2 linked regions of the Homo sapiens genome follow. The protein of the gene in region 2 interacts with the protein of the main gene of each other region in a pairwise test. Each region holds a gene or a part of one and is shown on either strand. Other genes may lie near its edges. The genes, in order: POU2F1 and SNX24.

Evidence for each region.
Region 1: the proteins of SNX24 (region 2) and POU2F1 interact in binary tests that used the Homo sapiens proteins (3 or more experiments, as listed by UniProt).

The regions. Positions count from the first base shown.
Region 1 is NC_000001.11:167,412,364-167,416,385, reverse strand, and holds part of POU2F1 (POU domain, class 2, transcription factor 1), read right to left. Parts: intron 3,361-4,022; coding exon 3,272-3,360; intron 2,525-3,271; coding exon of another isoform or gene 2,508-2,524; exon of another isoform or gene 887-2,507; coding exon 576-886; 3' UTR 1-575. UniProt on the Homo sapiens protein: Transcription factor that binds to the octamer motif (5'-ATTTGCAT-3') and activates the promoters of the genes for some small nuclear RNAs (snRNA) and of genes such as those for histone H2B and immunoglobulins.
Region 2 is NC_000005.10:122,844,211-122,848,412, reverse strand, and holds the start of SNX24 (sorting nexin-24), read right to left. Parts: upstream 2,801-4,202; 5' UTR 2,780-2,800; coding exon 2,720-2,779; intron 1-2,719. UniProt on the Homo sapiens protein: May be involved in several stages of intracellular trafficking.

The sequences.
Region 1 (4,022 bases), on a different chromosome or scaffold from region 2:
TAATAATACAGTAATACAGGCCTGCCTAAATTGTACCAGTTAAGAAAGGAACCCCCAACACAATTGATACGATTATAAACACCTTGTTATGACTTAATGGCCTGTACAACAGACCCATAAAAATGATTTTTTTTTTTTAAGAAAAAAAGAAATTTAGACAAACAAGAAATCCCCTTCCTATATTGGAATTGGTAACCCACCTTAACTTGTCATCATGACTGCTGGAAATGATAAGTAGTCCTTTCACTTATTTTTGTTTGTTTTTGATTTTTTTGTTTCTTTTTTTTTTTTTTTTTTTAATTTTTGGTTAGAAAGTTCTCCAATCCATGAAGCAATCCTGAAAAGACAGTGTTTTATTACAAAATTAGGCAAATGTTCCGTCTCCATCCTTTCTTTCTTTTTCTGGTATGTGTGTATGGGTGTGTGTGGTTTTTTTTTTTTTTTCTCCCTTCTCTCCTTTGCCCTCACAACACGGCGAGAGGAAGCCAATCACATTTTTCAGTTTATTAACCTGGCTGGCAGTCCAATCACACTGCAGAGTGAAAAAGGCTTCTGGCAGCCCAGCTCTGCCCAGCTCACTGTGCCTTGGAGGCGGTGGTGGTGGTGGACGCAGCCCCGCTGGCAGAGGCCACTGTGAAGAGAGAGTTCTGGATGGACTCAGCAGAGGTGGAGGTGGCGTGAAGGCTGGCTACAGGTGCAGAGTTCCCTGCAGATGCTGCGGCGGCAGAGACCAAGCTAACAGGGTTGCTGGTGAGCAGAGAGAGGTTCTGAGGGTTCAGGAACAGAGGGGCAGTCACGATGTTGGGGGCTCCTCCCGCATTGGCAAATACCAGGTTCCCAGTTGCATCAAGTGATGTTATTGGAAGAGAGCCACCAGAAGCAAGAGCTACAGACAAAAACCCCCCAAAACAGGCAGGAATGAAAACATTAACATCATCCTGGAGAAGCCAAATAACACATCAAAAGTCTATCATTTTCCTACAACCCACCAGGAAAAAGTATAGCCCTTCACTGAATTTTTTTCCTCAAACACAGTGCTATATTGATACCAATTGTAGTTTATTTTTAATTTTGAAGAGCCTAAAAGACTGAAATGTCTAATTTAATGGGCACAAGCAGGGGTAGAAGACAGCTAATAACTGTCTAATGAATTAGAGTCATGTTCGTGTCTTGAAATCACCAGTTTATTTCATTTACCTAGACATATTTGATAAATCCAATAATTTTGTCTTTAATGAAGACTGCTGATTTTAAACTACCTCTGTTCAAAGGACAAACTAGCTGAAGTGATTAAAGCATTAACAACAGGAGGTGAGTGGTGGGCATTACAGCCTGAGGCCTGCCTCCTGTTAGATCAGTGGCGGCATTAGATTCTCATAGAGCACGATCTGAGGTGGAAACAGTGTCATCCAGAAACCACGCCACCACAATGTGGCTATGGAAAAACTGTCTTCCAGAAAACCAGTCCCTGGTGCCAAAAAGGTTGGGGACCACTGCTTTATATTATGATATACAAGATGAAAATCATCTTGCAAAAAGGCTTTAGTTCTAAAATAAATTATGTATCACCAAATAAAGTTAAAAGGTATAATTAATTTCTCACTTCCTGAGGCTAAATACTTGATTTCTATGACTTGTGCAAAGGAGAATGATGAATCTATTGTAGCAGGAAATTAGACATAATGATGTAGGTGGGTGATCTAAGTCTAGGATGTGCTTTAATGGGTGAGAAATTTTCTATGATGCTGTTGCTTCCCCAAAGAAGGCATCATCAACATTTTATTTAAAATAATCGAGACTCTCATTTAGTATCTCAACCTGTTGTCTGGCAACATTCCTAAATCTCTCTAGCCATATAACCTCACTCCTACATGTAGATTTGAGGGATTTTCTAACGGCATTACACATTTGATTTCTTACATAAAATATAGCTGAAGGGAATGCCTCTGACTTTGGCCTTGCTCATACAAATAGTACAGAACAGTGAGACAGTGCAGCTTGAAGTTTTTCTGAGATTCCAAACTTAGTATCTTTTCAGAGTGTCAATCATGCCCTAGGGAAGACATTTTGCCTTTGTAGTATCAACACAGCACAGAAACATTCAATAAAGCAGAAGAAAAAGTGATTTATCACAAATTCTATTGCAAAAAAAAATTATTATATAACAAAAGCTTTAGAGCTAACCAATTCAGGTATGATTTAGTCAATCAGAAAGTCAATATAATGTAAGGTAATCTAGGCCATGGTTTGGTTTTGTCTGTAATTAACATTCTCTAGTACACTGTTAGAGATATTACCTGTGAAATATTAATCTTAATTTAGGTTGGCTAATAGTTATTTTTGGCCCTGAGAATTCTCATTTATGCACAAAACACTTTAATTTTTTTTTTTTTTTTTTAGAAACAGGGTCTTACTGTGTTACCCACGCTGGGGTGCAATGGTTATTCACAGGCATGATCATAGCACACTGCAGTCTTGAACTCATGGCCTCAAGTGATCCTCCTGCCTCAGCCTCTTAGCAAAACTATTTTAAGAAAAAAATTCTAATTAATTAGTGATGTCTCTCAAATTGTCTCCCTGAATCACATAACAGTAAACATTTTTAGACAGAAAGCTTAGGTACTAAACAAGTGGAACCCTTCAGTATATGGAATGAATATTGCCCTGGGTAACATGCTAAAAGGCAAAAGGAACCCAGCTGAGCTTGGAAAAGAGACATTATAATCCAAGAGAATATATGTTCTACACTAACGGCGATATAAAAAGAGCAGAACTTAATGAGAATTAAAAGCACTCCTGAGGTCCACCTGATGTGTTCCAATGTTTGTTCATTACAGGACTTTCCCATGCACAGCTTTCTCAGGAGTGCAGCTGGGAACTGGAGAGTCTTACTTGGTCAAGTTTGCCTAGAGACGGGTTTTAGATTAATACTTGGGATAAACTTATCAGGGGAAAAAAATCTGGCTTCAAGTCTACTCACATAAGATCAATATTAGCATGAAAGTTCTGGTTTTTTACCATATACCAAACTAAGTATATTTCCTGCTTTTACTCACATACTAACACCTATACTTTTCTTACAAAGCTTTTTTACGAGGACATTTTCTTAGTTCTCAAGAACAAGTTAGTCAGCATTTGACTCTTTCCCATCACTTTTACCTCTAGCAAAGCAGACTTCCTCTATCTCTGTCTCAAGCACACACACACACACACACACACACACTCACACACACGTGCATGCCACCAAATTAAGAAAAAGGCTTCTACTGACCTTGAATAGTTGCCAGTGTACTGTTGCTCATTAGAGCTGGGCTGAGAGCACCGCTCAGGGTCCCTGGATTCAGACTGAGTAAGGCACCTCTGCAAGTCCAAAAGAGGAGTCACTTTATTACCATGCAGACGCAGGTCTCATTTTGACAACACACCAAAAGGAACTTACAAAACGAAAATCCAGCTGGGGAAATAGGTGGAAATATTTATTTTTCTTTACTCTTCTATGGTTTGTGCTTCTCAGTTACTGCTTTCCTGGATGCTTACTCATACAAACGAGGTTATGATCAGCACAAAATGTAAAACTTTTATAGTCATTTTGACCCTTCTTTGAAAGACTTATTTCTCTTTCTTTCCAAAATGAAAGAAACATTCTAGAGAAAAAGATATATTTACAAGATAATTCTTATAATGTGTGACAATAACAGTATAAAATTGAGACTCCTATTACATCTCTTATCTATGCTTGAGAATTAGGAAGTAGGCAGTTGAGAGAGTTTAATGGGGAAAATAAGAGTCAAGAATTCTAGGCTTTCTTCCTGGCCCCGTCACTAAGGTAATTAGTGACCTGGTATTTTGGGTCTTCATCTGGAAACAAAGGTATGACTACTGCCCTTCCCAGGGTGTTAAGAAACATAAACTCAACTATAATCAAAGTCCTTGTATGATCACAAAACAGCCCACTTCAAAGAGATTACTGCTTTAAAGACATTTTTTTCCCCATCTAAGTCAGTGATGTAAAGTCTCCCCTG
Region 2 (4,202 bases):
TTTTAAACACAAACACAGGTCGGGCTCAGTGGCCCGCGCCTATAATCCCAGCACTTTGGGAGGTCAAGGTGGGAGGATCCCTTAAACCTAGGAGTTTGAGACTAGCCAGTGCAATATAGTGAGATCCCATCTCTACAAAAAATACAAAAATTAGCCAGTTGTGGTGATTTATGCCTGTGCTACTCAAGAGGCCAAGGGGGAAGGATCACTTGAGCCCAAGAGTCCAAGGCTGCTGTGAGCTAGGATTGCGCCACTGCACTCCAGCCTGGGTGACAGAGCAAGATCCTAGCTCTTAAAAACACACATTCACACAAACATAATCGCTAAAGTAAAAAGATATTTTTTACACGAAAGTGTACATTATTTTACAAGCTTCTTATTTAGGAAACTGAAATATTTTTTAAATTCTGGGGTTTTTTTTAAGCTGCTATATTCATAGCTTATTCACTGCTATATTCCCTACACCCAGAATACAGACACAGAGCAGGCACTCAGTAAATATTTGTTGAATGAAAAACCGCTGTACAATCATAAAACCAGTTGTGCAGAGGGGAAAAGTATCTAATAACTGCTTCACAAACTCACAGAAGCAAAAAAATCCCTTCAGAAGGTATTTTAGGGCTGGGTGTGGTGGCTCATGCCTGTTATCCCAGCACTTTGGGAGGCCTAGGCAGATGGTTTGCTTGAGCACAGGAGTTCAAGACTAGCCTGGGCAACATGGAGAAACCCTGTCTCTACAAAAAATTTAAAAATTATCCAGGAGTGGTGCCATGTGCCTGTAGTCCCAGCTACTCCAGGGGCTGAGGTGGAAGGATTACATGAGCCCAGGAGGCAGAGGTTGCAGTGAGCTGAGATCACCCCACTGCACTCCAGCCTGGGTGACAGAGGAAGACTGTCTCAAAAAAAAAAAGAGAGAGAGAGATTTTAACAGTTTAGCTCCCAATCTGGATGAGTTAGGATTTTTTTTAAGCAAATATTTAAAGAGCAAACTCTCATCACATAAGCAATCTTCAAACTCTCCCGAATTTGTCCAAAAAAGAGCTCCTTCCACATCAGTTTAATTCACAACCTGGAGTGTGGCACATGCCTGGTCATAAATACAAATAATAAAAAGATACATAAAGCTTTGGGAGAAAAGCACAGCTCGTCTAATAGAAGAAAATCAACAATGGGCAATGAGCCTTAATTATGGTCTATTTCAAAGTGCTTATTTCTGCAGGTAATTAACTTTTAGCTTGAACCGGTAAGATCAACTTCATCTTTTCTTTGAAAGCCAACGCCTCTAACAAGCAGCCTTTTTATCTTCAGATCCTAAATGAATGTCCCAAAGATGGTAAGCCCTCCATGACTGTTGATAGTGCTGATGGGAGAAGTGAGATACCTGGGAGAAGCAACAACAAGCAAGGTTTTAGGCTTAAGAGACTTGGATAAAATCTCCAAGAAAAAAAAAAAAAAGCCTTGAACAAACTCGAGGGTTTGTTTGTTTGTTTTTAAGGAAGATACAGACTATTTAACGAAATGTGAATGCACTGGAAAGGATTATTTATATAAATAACTACCACTATGGAACACAGCTCCCTCTCCCTGCATTTTCCTTCCCAAGGAAAGCACTTTAACAACTTGTTTCAGAACACTTGGATCCAGCAGTCTACTCAATTCTAAAAACCCACCGACTTCCTGGACTATTTTTTCAATCACTGTTTTTCATTCTAAATCTTCCTTTGAGAGGGTAATTTAGTCCCAACTAAGAAAACACAATGGCCCAAACAGACTGTCACCAAATACCAGTAATATTTAGAGGAGGGGAGAGGGGTTAAAATATTCTCCATCAAAGTAATGTAACTGGTGTTTAGCAAGTGTGTGATTGATGTAAATAAAATAACAAATCTTTCAGACTGCCCTGCAATCTTTCTTCAACCCTACAGGTTCTTTAACAACTGGAAGTAAATTCTTCCAAGGTGTACACACACTCAGACATTTCTCCCACTAGCAATGACTGTCCAGGAAAGAATGTTTTGAATTCATTGGGAAATCTCCACCAACAATTCACTTAGTAAACGTGTTGCTCAAAGGGCCCATGCCCTGGTCTCTGCCCTCCCCTTCACTCTTGAGAGCAGGGGTCCTGTTTCACACTTCTCGGTGACCACAGTCCTAGGTATGAAACAGGTGCTCAGCAAGTAATTTTGCCATTTCATGGAACTGCACAACTCAAAAAGAAAAATCTTTGGAAATCATCTAAAATCAATACACGTGTTTAGTTTGGCTAATAAACAGCTGCAAATTATGATTTAAAAAAAAAAAACAGGTTTTCCAGCTGAACTAATTGTACAGAACTTGGAAGCCAGCGTGAATCTGCCGCGAAGCTACTACTGTCTGGACTGAGGGGGCAGCTGTGCCAGAAAGGAACGCAGCCCATCCTGGGCTCCCGAAGGCGGGCGGCGGGGAGAATGGCTAGTGCCGCGTCCGAGGACTGCAGCTCGTCCGGGAGGAGAGGGTTGGACCCCGAGGGGCTAGGGGCGCCCGCAGCCGCCGTGCCCGGGAGGGGCGCCCGTTTCCTTGACAACCGCGCCAAGGGCGCAGCCCTTCCTCTGGGCCGGGGGAGGGGAGAGAAAACGAGGGGACCCCCTGCGCCAAGGCGGCGGCGGCCAAGGGTGTTTCCTGGGCGCAGCAGCCGCAGGCCTGGCTCGCGGGGCCCTGTCCGCCCGCGGCCCGCGCCTACCGTGTATCCCCGCTCCAGGTCGCTCTCTTCATAGCGAAAGGACGGGATGTAGACCTCCATGGCCGCGCCGGCCAGCCGGCTGAGGGCGAGTTGGGGGCAGGCTCACGGCCGCGGCCGCCGCTCCGCCCACGGCCGGGCCGCCCCGCCTCCCGCCCCGCTGCGCCCGCGGGGCCCCGAGGCTGCGGGCCGGACTCAGGTCTGCGGGCTGACCCGGCCGCTCCCGCGCCCTGGGCGTGCCGGGGGCCGGAAGCAGAGGGCGCAGGGCTCCAGGCGCCTGGGTTTCGGGCCTAACGGGCGGTGGAGATCAGCTGGGCCCGAAAGAGGCGGGGCCAGAAAACCTGAGTCTGCAGAAACGGGGTGTGCGCGCCAACGCGCTGGGCGCGGGGACTGGGCCGCACCCGGCGCTCCCTGCCCTGCGGACTCCGGCTGGAGCTTGATTTGCAGTTTGCTAGACGCCACCATTAAGAGATTGCCAGACAGCAAAGAATAGAAAGAGTGGCGCTTTTAACTTTTGTTTTGGTTGGTTGAATTTTTTTTTTCCCTCTCGGCTGGCATTAACAGCGGTGAACCAGCCGGCTTATACCAAGACTCTCCGAATTCCCTTCGATTCGAAGGTCAGCGTCTCCTGAGTTAGACGTCGAATCTGAGAATGGTGGTGTACCACAGAGCTCGAAAGTGAGCCCGAAAGTTGGCCGGTCACTAAGACAAACGCTCTGGCTTCACGCTGCAGTTCTAAAATGCCGCCTTTAACTGTGAAGTACTTTTTAACTGTGAGGGAAAAATAGAATACGGAAAAAAAAAGGACTGAACCCGTGCCTCGGACCAGGGTCTAGTAGGCTGAAGGTACCTAAAAGATTAAGTGTCCCGGCGGGGGAGGCTTGATTATCAAGTTAGTCAAGTAAACGTTGGGTTTCTTCTTTAGGTTAGCGCACCGAGCAGAATAGAAACGTGGACGTGACTTGTAGGTCACTGAGAAGTGACCTCAGCCATCCAGGAAAAAACCAGCCAGCGAGCTTTCTTGGACTGTAAACAATTGCACTTAACTCCGTTTGTCCTTGAGTGCAGAGGACATTTCAGCTTAGCAAACTCTAGACTTTATGATGGGACCCTGAGCCGTGCAACAGAGGGATAAGGCAGCTTCTCGTTTTAGGAACTTACCTGATGTGGACCCCTCTACATTAGTCTCATCTGAAGATCCGTCCTCCTAACCCAGCACTCACACATTTGCAGCTCCAGGATGTGCCCTTCTCTCAAAACTGTGCCTTAGCTGTGCCCTGTGACTACACACCTTTCTTTCACTTCTGGCCAGCACCTCCTGAGGTAACTAACCAGCTCTGCGGACGATAAGCTATCTGAGTTCAGAGCCCAGCTTGTAGGTTACCTTAAGCCTCTGGTGACTATACACTGTATGTATGATTTATTTATCTACCCTACCTACTAGGTTTTAGGGCAAGCATGCTTTTAAAAACTCGTCATCTCGTGG